Homo sapiens: one gene and its partners. The main gene of each other region encodes a partner of the protein of the gene in region 3 in a complex. Each region holds a gene or a part of one and is shown on either strand. Other genes may lie near its edges.

Region 1 (3,748 bases), on a different chromosome or scaffold from region 3:
AGTCTGGTTTGGAGATTTTCAGCTCAGCACCAGAGAGTTGGTGTCTAAGGGTGTGGATTGTGGGGTATAGTCTGGGAGCCATACACTTTTGTGAGAGGTTTGGATTTGGGGTTTGGGGCCCTAGATCTGGGACTTGGGGGCTTGAATTTCATAATTTAGGACTCTAGTCTTAGGAAGTTGAGGCTCATTCACAGATTCAATCCATGCCCTCCCCCACCACCCCAGCCCCAATTCATGACAGGTAGGATTCTAGTATTTGGGGGTTGGAGTTGAGATTTGAAGTTCAGACACATAGACTTGGGAGTTTCGCGGGGAGTCCAGCTAAAGTAAGTGCAATTTGGGGTTTGTGGAGAGAGTTATGGTTTAGGAGTTTGGTGGATATTTGATAGCCTTGGGATCTGGAAGTTATGCTGGGTCCATCTTTATGGGTTTAAAAGGATGAATTTGGGGCTTAAACCTAGAAAGTTCAGGTCAGGGGATTGTGGAAAAGACTTTTTGCTTAAGAACTACCTCGGTATTTGAGTGTTCAGGAATTTTAATATGGGAACTCTGGGGTCTGTGCTGTGGATTTAGAAGGACAGATTTGGAGTTCAAGGATCAATGGAATATTCAACTTTGGGGTTTGTTGAACAGATTTATGACTTAGGAGCTTGGCAAACATCTGGGGTTCAGGAGTTTTGATGAGAGATTCCTGGGATGCAAAATGTTGAGTTTAGAATAGATTTGAGGTTCAGGTACAAATACAGTGCTCATTTATTGGAATTTGTGGAAAAGATTAGGCTTAGGCAGCAGACTAATACTGGGGGCTTTAGAGATCTTGATACGGAGACTGGGGCCAGTCATTGCAGACTTAGAAAGGCAAGTCAGAGTTTGCCATCTGGATGAGTCTTTGGTTCTGGGGCTCAGGGATTCACTGATCAGGTCTGAGGTCTTGAAGCTATGGACACATATGGACACAGATCTGGGTTTGCGGGTTGAGAACTGGCTTGCAAGTCCAGTCGGGGGTGGGGGGGTCACCTGAAGGCCGTAAAGGCGGATGAAGTAGGACTTCTGGGGGTTATCCTTCACGAAGCACACAGCCCCACAATGCTCCTTGGTCCAGTGCTCAGCTCCAGGGGGCAGCGCCAGGTACAGCTGAACAACTGCAGTGGCCAGCGTCTGGGAGAGGAAAGCAGGGGTCAGTGGAGTCTGGTCAGGGGTAGCCACAAGGTCTTGGAGCCAGACCTGGTCCTTCCTGCCTCATGACAGTCATGGGCCCAAAGGAAGAGCTGCAGCCAGAGGGAAGGCAAGTAGACATTGAGATCTTCCTGGGAAGGGTGGATTATGACGGGAAATTCTAGGAGAGGAGATGATGGAGAGGGAAAGGAGGAGCGGGAGGAGGGGAAGAGAGAGAAGGAGGAGAGGAAGAGGAAGAAACGGTGGGGACGGGGCGGGGGCAGGAGATCCCCAGCTCACCAAGCATTTTCGTCCAAGCATCTCAAAGAGTCGCTGGTTCTCGTGGTCCTGGAGGAGGGTGGAGGGTATGTTCTGCTGAACCGCTGGTGCTCCTCGGCCCCCGGGCCTTCCTCCCATTGGGCCCCCACTCATGGTGCTTTCTGCCCTTGTCTTCTCTGGCGAGGCTCTGGGTGCAGGGTAAGAAGAGGAACTTCCGCAATGAGCAGCAAGGGAACAGGAAATGCAAAAAACCACAAGGGACAAGGGAAACAAGTCCTCCAGGGGCCCCTTGGTGGGCCTGGCCTCCTCGTTAGGCTGAGCTTGGGCCCTCCGCCATCAGATTGGAACCCTCCTCCACTTGACTGCTTAGACCCACCTTTTGGATCAGCTTGGGTCCTCCTCCCCCTTTCTTACTCTCTGGGGCCCATCTCCTTCTGACTGGCTCAGACCCTCCTCCCTCTGGCTGGCAGCGAGAGCTTAGCACATCTGTGTGCAGGGCTCCCTGTGGCAAGGAGTAGTCATGGGCCTGGGTGGCCTCCTTTCTAAAGCACCTAGGTAGCCTGAGGCTGAGGCCCGAGGTCCCTAGTCCGGAAGGGTTACTACAGTAAAACTTTTCCTTTTGGCTGGGGACAATAGCTCACACCTGTAATCCCAGCACTTTGGGAGGCCGAGACGAGTGGATCACTTGAGGTCAGGAGTTCAAGACGAGCCTGGGCAACATGGCAAAACCCCATTTCCACTAAAAAATACAAAAATTAGCCAGGCATGGTGGCACACACCTGTAGTCCTAGCTGCTCAGGAGGCTGAGGCAGGAGAATCGCTTGAACCCAGGAGGCGGAGGTTGCAGTGAGCTGAGACTGCACCACTGCACTCCAGCCTGGATGATGACAGAGCAAGACCCTTGTCTCAAAAACAGCAACAACAACAACACAACAAAAACCCTTTTCCTTTTAATTACAGAGCGAGCCCCTGTGATCCACGCCTATCGTGAGTGCTTAGACACTGCCAATGACGCATATGCCTCTGGTCCACTTCCCCATCCCTTACCCTTGCCTCCCCGCAGCTCCCAAATTACTTTCTGCTTGTCATACTTTTTTTTTTCTTTTTTTTTTTGAGATGGAGTCTCACTCTGTCGCCAGGCTGGAGTGCGGTGGCACGATCTCGGCTCACTGCAACCTTTGCCTCCCGGGTTCAAGTGACTCTCCTGCCTCAGCCTCCCAAGTAGCTGGGACTACAGGCACACGCCACCACGCCCAGCTAATTTTTTTGTATTTTTAGTAGAGACAGGGTTTCACCATGTTGGCCAGGATGGTCTCGATTTCTCGACCTCGTGATCCACCTGCCTCGGCCTCCCAAAGTATTAGAATTACAGGCGTGAGCCACCGTGCCCAGCCCATCCCTTTTTTAAAGAAAGGAACTTTATATCATATATGAATGCCTGAACAACATCTTGTTTAGTTTTCATTGCACTTGAAGTTTGTAAAAGCACATAATCTTCAAAGGCTTGCTTTCTCCCCACTGGACATCCTAGTTTTATCTTAACACTCACATAGCACTTAACGTGTGTGCCAGTCACTGTTCTGACCCCTTTGCCCGGAGTGCGAGCCAGGCAGGCCAGGTGTGAGTGCATGGTCTCGTCCCTCCACGCCTTCACTCTTGGCTGTTGCTGTGATTCCTGTTTGCCTATAGTGGTAGCTGTTCATTTATTTCCACTGCCATACAGCATTCCATGGTGTGCATGTGCAGCCTGGGTGTCCATATTCTCCTGTAACAGCCCTTTGGGCTGCTTCTGGTTCTTGCTGTTGGGAGCAACACTGCAGTGTTCACTCCCGCACACATCTCCTGGTCCACATAGGCATGCAGACTCTCAGACGGGAATCTGAGGGCTGTAGGGTTTGCATGTCTCTAACTTCTCCAGATGATGCCAGACTATTTCCACAAGTGAATGCTAGCTCAGTCCCCGGCCTCCCCAGGCCTCAGTTTCCCCATGTATGAGGTAGGCCATTTGGAGACTTGAAGCTCTCAGATACAGGAACAGCAGTTTGGGGGAGCTGAGCAGGTCTGGGGTGTGACTGACATTCCCAGGTACCTGAAGGAGGAACGGCACATCTCCAGTTGGGACCTGCAGTCCTTCCTGGAAACTTCCATGGCTTCCCACACGTGCAGGTTCAAAGCCTCTCTCCTGAACCTAGGTTCAGAACCCCTTCTGCAGTGGCAGTTCCAACCTCCCTCCCGTGTCCCCACTCACAGCTAAGCTTCGGGCCTGGAGCACCTCCAACCTGCTGATCAGGGCAAGCCCCGATGTGGCCTTCAA
Region 2 (3,748 bases), on a different chromosome or scaffold from region 3:
ATTTAATTGTGGACATCAATCTTGAAGGACAAGTTTTAAGTGGCAGATTTTTAAGTATGTATGTGGAGGGCAATGGAAATTGTGTTGGCATTATTGATACCAGTTCAACTTTCTTGTATAATAAAGATCATACGGGTGTTTTGGGAGGAAAACCAGATAGTAATACCGTATAGAAAAGTGTCTAAGCACCTCATTGTAAGTATGGCTAACATCAATAATTAACAGACTGTTTCAAGCTAGGAGAACAGTTCCTCCCAACTTCCAGCTCTAGAATATTTAAGGCCTCAGAGAGAAGTAAACAAAAATTAAAATGACAAAAGTCCATTTTATTTCTTGTTAGGAAAGCCTTAAGAGAGAACAAATCTATTCAATGACTATACCCTCCCTCCCCATCAGTTTATATGGGTTAAATTGTGCGAATATAAAAAATTAGTGGGTATGAATGGAAATGAGAGAATAAAAGACTAATGAATTAAGACTAGAGGGGTGAACTTTGAAAAGTAATCTTTTTAATAGAAAAAAATGGAGTTAGTGACTAGCAAAAATTGGATCCCAGTGTTAGGAGTTTAATCCTCCCAAGGATAGGTATCTTCAGTATCATTATAGTAATAGTTATAAAACTTACATTTAAGGGAAAAAATTACTGTCTTAGTGTATACATTTAAACCATTTGCTTCCCTGTATTGACCTTTCAGGTACAGCTGGAAGGTGAGATACACACACACACACACACACACACACACACACATATATGCATATGCCTTTGTGTGTGTGTATGTGCAATGTTTCTGTTATACTCTAACCTATGTATAATTTATATGGAAGTGTTTCATAAATTATAAAGTCAGCCACGTACTTCAATCTTTGTTCTTTTAGGATGTAAGGATGTATATATTTCATAGGTAATATTAGCCTGTGTTTTTTGGGGGTTCTTCATATCTGTAATAGCCATGTGGCCCTCCATTGTATTTATTAACCATTGTCTAATTTTGGGGGTTACATCAAGCTTGTCAACCACTGCCTGTGGGCCTCATGGGCCCAACGCAAATTCATAAACTTTCTTAAAACATTATGAGATTTATTTCATGATTTTTTTTTAAGCTCATCGGCTATCGTTAGTTTTTGTGTATTTTATGTGTGGCCCAAGACAATTCTTCTTCTTCCAAGTGTGGCCCAGGGAAGCCAAAAGATTGGACATCCTGGGTTACATACACACATCCACAAATACTCCCATGTCTTTTATTTTTAAAGATGATGATAAGAAGGTGGTTCTGGGTGGATGTGGTGAACAACTGATGGTTTTTGTCCGAGAATACCTGTTTCTACATTAGACACTGCATAATATTATTCACTCATTTTTGGCTTGCAGTCACTGTTTACAACTTAAAAGGCACACCCTTGGATGCCTTTGTTGAAGAGCTATCCTTAAAATTCTTTTGTTGAGTTTCAGAGGAAAGGACAATTTTAAGTCTGTGTCTTAGCTGCTGTATCTTGTGCAATATCAGGTGTCAGGCAGCACTGCAAACAGATTTAAAATTATTAGGAAGTAATGGTTTAGGGCAGTATTATATTTGGTATCAGGAACTGCTTTGGTATCTGATTAATTTGAGTCCATTTCCTTCTCATTTTTTTTCTGCATGTCCTGAGATTGAATGTGGTCATTTTGTTTTAGGAAGGAGTGGGAACATTTTCTGAGTATCTACTATGAGTAGGCCTTTTACATGTTCTCATTTAATGCTCACAGTAACTAATGCTATCAGCAATACTATAGATGCATAAGTAATGATTATTTAGGCTGGGCACAGTGGCTCACCCCTATAATCCCAGCACTTTGGGAGGCTGAGGTGAGAGGATCACTTGAGCCCAGGAATTCGAGACCAGCCTGGGCAACATAGTGAGATCCTGTCTCTATGAAAAAAGAAAAAAAAAGATTAGCCAGGTGTGGTGGCTTGCACCTGTAGTCCCACCTACACAAGAGGCTGAGGTGGGAGGATCATTTGAGTCCTGGAGGTCGAGGCTGAAGTGAGCTGTGTTCATACCATTGCATTCCAGCCTGGGTGACAAAGTAAGACCAGGTCTCAAAAAAGAAAAAGATATCTAAGTTGCCTAAAATTATACAGTTATTAAATAACCAATCTAGTCTTTCAGCAGAGATTTGGATCTGTTCCCTACTCCCCCTGGCCTTTCTTTTATATTATGCTTCCATAGGCTTAGAACTGGGAAGAAAAAAAGGGCCTGCGACTAGCAGTAAAAAATTCCTGTCTGGTTAGTGCAAATTTCAGACTGGATAAAGTTGGCAGAAATTCTTCAGAAGTGACTGAAGTGAGGTGCATTTGAAGTTTCTTCTCTTTAGATGTCAAGCCTTTTGGCATCTTCACTGTGCTCTTCTATTTTCAAGCATGGAGTTAAAAATTGATCTGGTCCAAAAAGGTGCTCTTCAGTTTTTCTTTTCAAGGCAGATTTGAAATACCTTGGCTGAAAAGTTTGTTCTCCAAATCAGAAGGAATAGGCAACCTGTCAGTGCAACGCATATACTCCAAATGCGAAACCTGTGAAAAGGAAAGGAAGGTCAAGTTGTTGTTTTTTTTGTTTGTTTTTCTTTTTGAGATGGAGTCTTGCTCTGTCGCCCAGGCTGGAGTGCAGTGGTGCAATATTGGCTCACTGCAACCTCTGCTACCCGGGTTCAAGTGATTCTCCTGCCTCAGCCTCCTGAGTAGCTGGGATTACAGGTGTGTGCCACCATGCCCGGCTGATTTTTGTATTTTTAGTAGAGATGGGGTTTCAGCATCTTGGCCAGGCTGGTCTTGAACTCCTGACCTCGTGATCCACCTGCCTCAGCCTCCCAGAGTGCTGGGATTACAGGTGTGAACCACTGTGCCCGGCCGGAAGGTCAAGTTTTAACATTTAAGTTTACTTCCCACTGCAAGGTGTTGCTCCCTTTCAGCCACTTCCAAGGAAAGCACTTGCCATAAAGTCTGTTAAGCAGATGGGCGGGTGGGAGTGTAGTGAGGCCATCAGATGCTGCTGATTTGTATTCTCACATTCTTTCTCCTGTTGTGAGGGGAAGAGAGTGTGGAAGAGGGGTGGTGGAGTGTTGGCACTTTGAACCATTACAGTTTCACCCTAGGCAGTAACTCCCTGAGCTGTTTTATTCTCCAAAGTGGGAATATATGGTTAGGGCTGTTATCATTATCAGGATGCATTTTTTCCTCCTAATAATACCAGTAAAAACTGTGACAATATATTGGGGTATCTAGGATAGAAGTTGATCAAATGCAAATGTTTGGCTCCAGGAAGAGACTGGCAACAGTGTAAAGTGATGAAATTTGGGGAGAGATGGTATGCGTGGCCTTAAATCCGTAAGTGATAAGAAGTACTTTGGCTTGTGGCCTGTCATTTAGCATTGGCCTGGGAGGCAGGAGACCTAGTTTCTAGAATCATATTTGCTGCACCAACTTGGACAAGTGAAACTCTTTCCTCTGGCCCTTGGTTTTCCTCCTTTGTGAATGGGAATAAAATTTGGCACAATTGTTAACATAGTCGTGAGATGATGGAAATCATACCACTTGAAAACAAAATTTCCAGAACATAATACATTGTGATTCATTAGTTGACATTGGCTTTTGAAGAGCTTTCAGGTGGAAATGTGTGTAGGGGTGTTCTGTGTGGTCTAAAGAGTAGAATTCCCCAGGGTCAGTGACTGAAAGTCATATGAGCATAGGGAAAAATATTCTAACATGTAGAGTTG
Region 3 (3,748 bases):
TCAAAAACAACCCTCCTTTACTAGATTGTTCATATCCAAAACTAGACTAAGAATCAGAAAAGCTGGCTTCCATTCCAAAGTCTACTTATGCTAGTGTAATTACGCTAAGTAATTAAACTTAGACTTCTAAGTCTCATCCCTAAATTGGGCCTGAGTACCCTCATCCATTAAGAGATGGGTAAGACAATATATATTGTCCCATCCAGCTCTGAATTTCTATTACTCTAGAAATGGCAAGCCCCAACTCATAGATGGGAACTTAAATGCATTCTACACCAAATCCATTTCCATATTAACTTCAACAGGTACCATGAGAACATTACTTGTGCCTCATGGTCCATTCATTTACCTAAATCGGTTCATTTAAAATTTTATTCTACTACTACTCTTCCTTCCACTCTATCACTTTTCCAGAGATGTACAACACAAACATACATATAAAACACCCACAAGCCCACTTAAAATATAACACCAGAAGATCAAAGTCATAAAAGACTCAGAAATTATGTTTACAAGTAAATAACTTCAATGGAGACTGAAACAGAAAAATTCTGATAGCTGTCCTCACTCTGAAACAAGATTCATGTACCTCTAAATGTCCCCTGTAAGTCCACTGAACCTCAAAACGTCTTCCATTTATCTTGTCTCCAAATGAGCCAATTCAAAATATCAATATGATTTTAGTGTTTAATAATACCTTCAAATTCTCCCCCCTTCAAAAAAAAAACTTTCCTTATTTTTGAGACAGGGTCTCACTACCTTTCACAAATGAGTGTTACTCTAACTCTTGTCTCTCTCTCACTTCAATATTTTTGTTATTCCCATCTTCCTTCTACCATTCCAAAGAGTTGATTTAAAAAACAGTTATGGGGCCAGGCATGGTGGCTCACGCCTGTAATCCCAGCACTTTGGGAGGCTGAGGCAGGTGGATCATTTGAGGTCAGGAGTTCAAGACCAGCCTGGCCAACATGGTAAAACCCCGTTTCTACTAAAAATACAAAAATTAGAAAGGCGTGGTGGCGGGCGCCTGTAATCCCAGCTACTCAGGAGGCTGAGGCAGGAGAACTGCTTGAACCCGGGAGGCGGAGGGTGCAGCAAGCCGAGATCGCGCTACTGCACTCCAGATAGAATGGACGATAGAGACTCCATCTCAAAAAAAAAAAAAAAAAGAAAAAAAGAAAAGAACAGTTGTGGGAGTGACCCCCAAAGGACTCTGTTGGTGTTCTCGAAACATAACAGGTCTTCTCTTCTCTGCCCCTAAGAACCAGTTTGGAGCTCCATTACTGCTAAGCGAACAGCTCCACAAGAAAAGTGGAGACACATACTACTTTCTCTCAAGTTACAGGACCTCAAATGGTATCCCAGGAGACCTCCAAGTACTGATCAATAATTGGCCAAAATATCAAAAAAAAAAAAAAAAAAGTCACCTCATTCCAAGATGTAGGGCATACTTCACCAAATTGAGACCACCACTCGTTAGAATCTTGTCTACTGGAGTTTTGCCTCCCAGCACTTCTTGCAAACCCTGTGTCACCCCTTCTGACTTTCCACTGATTTTTCAGCTGTTTAAAGTGTATATAATTTACCCATGAGAAGTCAAGATCTTTAAAAACAGGAAACAAAGGCAGACAACAGAAAAAAATTCAGTACACATAGAGAAAGCGTTTTCAAAAGGATATCAAATTTTACAACATTTTACTAACAGAAGGAAGCCTTTATACTTACAGTCGGTACATATTCCGATGGAAATTTGTTTGTTGTGTAGGATATCAGGAGACATGTTTTACCAACAGCACCATCGCCCACAACAACACACTTAATTGTCTGCATTGCTGAAATAGTTTTGTATCCACTTTAAATATTTCAAATCTGATGATGACCTGCAAAAAGATTAAAGACATTTGTTTATTTATACTTACATATGGATTTTTCTTCCTCACTTAGCAACAGGTTCAGGCACTCAGAGCAAGAAAAGAACTAGCACAATTATTATGGCTAAAAGAACCCAATAAGAGACACAATGACTTGCTATAAGTTACAATAACAAATAAGGTCCATTTCTAAGTTTCTGATCCCTGGCTATTCCAACTTCTTAAGTGTTATTTTTAAAAGGTCCAAAGTGGTGTGATAATCAGCGAATTTATTTTTATCATGAAAGAGAAGAGGCTGTATCAGAGAAAATTCCACAGTGTGCTAAATATTATTTTGTGAAAGCTGTTCTTCAGTTACACGTGCACACACACCTGTATGTATGCATGTATGTCAACTAGACTGCAATACAAAGGCCACTGCTTTAAAGAATGGTTCATGATCCAGCCTTATTCAGCCTTACTCAGGCTCTGACCAACAAGCAGCAGAGCACCACACGATCACACGGTAATTATATGAGTAACGTGAGGAACTGAACAAAGAACAGGGTGATCGCTGGCCTCAGCAGCTGTTTTAGCACCAGAATGCCTAGTCCAAAACCTACATTTTTATAATGAAAAAGTCAGATTGCTCTAAAGCATACTGACTTATAAACAGATACTATAGCTTCTCTTACTAGAGTCCTCCTCCATTTTAAGAAGCTATCAATTACAAGTACCAAAGAGTCATTAATTTGAGATGCTTTTTTTCATGTTAACATCTCTAAAGTCAGAATGTATCTTTGAGTCTCTTAGAATCATTATCAGCCATTTTTCCCCCACATTTTGACTTCTATGAAATTGGAATCTTAGATTCAATGAAATACTTTAACAGTTTTCTGAAAGAATAAAAAGAAACACCACCCAATATGTACCTAAATTTTAAGATTTATATTTAAATTAATTTAAATTATAATCCTAAAGGGGTTATAATTAAACATAAAAATACAGAACCACCTAACTCTTGGTCAGATGCCACCATGCTCCTATAGCACCATTCACAACAATTAATCATAACAATTTATAAATGCCTATTAACATCCCTGTAAATGAACCTATACTACCTCATGCACCACTATACTTCTAGCACTGAGCACTTCTAGACTGACACACTGTGAGTTGTTGATTGGATGCAAAAATCACGAAACAAAAGAACATGAAACTACATTAGTGTGAGTAACTCACATGAAATATACACTCTCCCGCTCCTCATCAAAATTATCTGCAGTATATTTTTCTTTTTTTTAGACAGGGTTTTACTCCCGTCACCCAGGCTGGAGTGCAGTGGCACAACCTCAGCTCACTGCAACCTCCACCTCCCAGACTCAAGCAATCCTCCCACCTTGGCCTCCCAAGTAGCTGGAACCACAGACGCATGCCACCATGCCCGGCTGGGTTTTTGTTTGGTTTTTGTTTTTTTAAGAGACGGGTCTCACTGTTACCCAGGCTGGTCTTGAATTCCTGGACTCAAGCAATCCACTCACCTCGGCCTCCCAAAGTCCCAGAGTGCTGGGATTACATGCATGAGCCACCGCAGCCAGCCATATTTATCCTTCTTTATTCAACTTCCTTTTATATCTCCTTTTTCCTTCTCCTTTCCCTTTTATGCACTAAGAAGCACCCATACTAACTAATACAGCATTAAAGATTAACAACCCTGATCCCTAAGATCAATCAATTACTGGTTAAATCTAAAAGCACTCAAATAATAATAGTAAGCAGCAAACACTCATACAGCATTTACTAAGTGCTATGTACTGTTCAAAACATATTACACATATTCACACATTTCATCCTCCCAAAAAGCCTATGAAGTATGTGCTGTATTATCCCTATTTTAC

The links.
Region 1: the proteins of CDC42 (region 3) and WAS are in contact, whole or in part, in an NMR structure (PDB 1CEE), measured with the Homo sapiens proteins. Residues at the interface, in NP_001034891.1 of Homo sapiens: Gln2, Tyr23, Thr24, Thr25, Val36, Phe37, Asp38, Asn39, Tyr40, Ala41, Val42, Thr43, Val44, Met45, Ile46, Gly47, Tyr64, Arg66, Leu67, Leu70, Lys153, Lys166, Asp170, Glu171, Ile173, Leu174, Leu177, Glu178, Pro179; in NP_000368.1 of Homo sapiens: Lys230, Lys231, Lys232, Ile233, Ser234, Lys235, Asp237, Ile238, Gly239, Ala240, Pro241, Ser242, Gly243, Phe244, Lys245, His246, Val247, Ser248, His249, Val250, Trp252, Phe258, Leu263, Asp264, Leu267, Leu270, Phe271, Ala274, Gly275, Ile276.
Region 2: the proteins of CDC42 (region 3) and FMNL2 are in contact, whole or in part, in a crystal structure (PDB 4YC7), measured with the Homo sapiens proteins. Residues at the interface, in NP_001034891.1 of Homo sapiens: Val36, Phe37, Asn39, Gln61, Glu62, Asp63, Tyr64, Asp65, Arg66, Leu67, Arg68, Pro69, Leu70, Pro73, Ser88, Glu91, Asn92, Lys94, Glu95, Lys96, Pro99, Glu100, Thr102, His103, His104, Pro106, Lys131, Asn132, Lys133; in NP_443137.2 of Homo sapiens: Ala41, Met42, Asn43, Leu44, Pro45, Lys48, Leu52, Tyr55, Lys59, Glu62, Leu63, Asp66, Gln67, Arg69, Phe70, Lys73, Tyr79, Arg108, Glu109, Ile112, Ser113, Leu114, Arg115, Thr116, Asn117, Ile119, Val122, Asp219, His222, Met226.

Annotation. Positions count from the first base shown.
Region 1 is NC_000023.11:48,681,693-48,685,440, reverse strand, and holds the start of WAS (actin nucleation-promoting factor WAS), read right to left. Parts: upstream 1,643-3,748; 5' UTR 1,588-1,642; coding exon 1,456-1,587; intron 1,159-1,455; coding exon 1,018-1,158; intron 1-1,017. UniProt on the Homo sapiens protein: Effector protein for Rho-type GTPases that regulates actin filament reorganization via its interaction with the Arp2/3 complex. Important for efficient actin polymerization. Possible regulator of lymphocyte and platelet function.
Region 2 is NC_000002.12:152,338,106-152,341,853, forward strand, and holds part of FMNL2 (formin-like protein 2), read left to right. Parts: intron 1-3,748. UniProt on the Homo sapiens protein: Plays a role in the regulation of cell morphology and cytoskeletal organization. Required in the cortical actin filament dynamics.
Region 3 is NC_000001.11:22,076,561-22,080,308, reverse strand, and holds part of CDC42 (cell division control protein 42 homolog isoform 1 precursor), read right to left. Parts: intron 1,881-3,748; 5' UTR 1,831-1,880; coding exon 1,726-1,830; intron 1-1,725. UniProt on the Homo sapiens protein: Plasma membrane-associated small GTPase which cycles between an active GTP-bound and an inactive GDP-bound state. In active state binds to a variety of effector proteins to regulate cellular responses. Involved in epithelial cell polarization processes.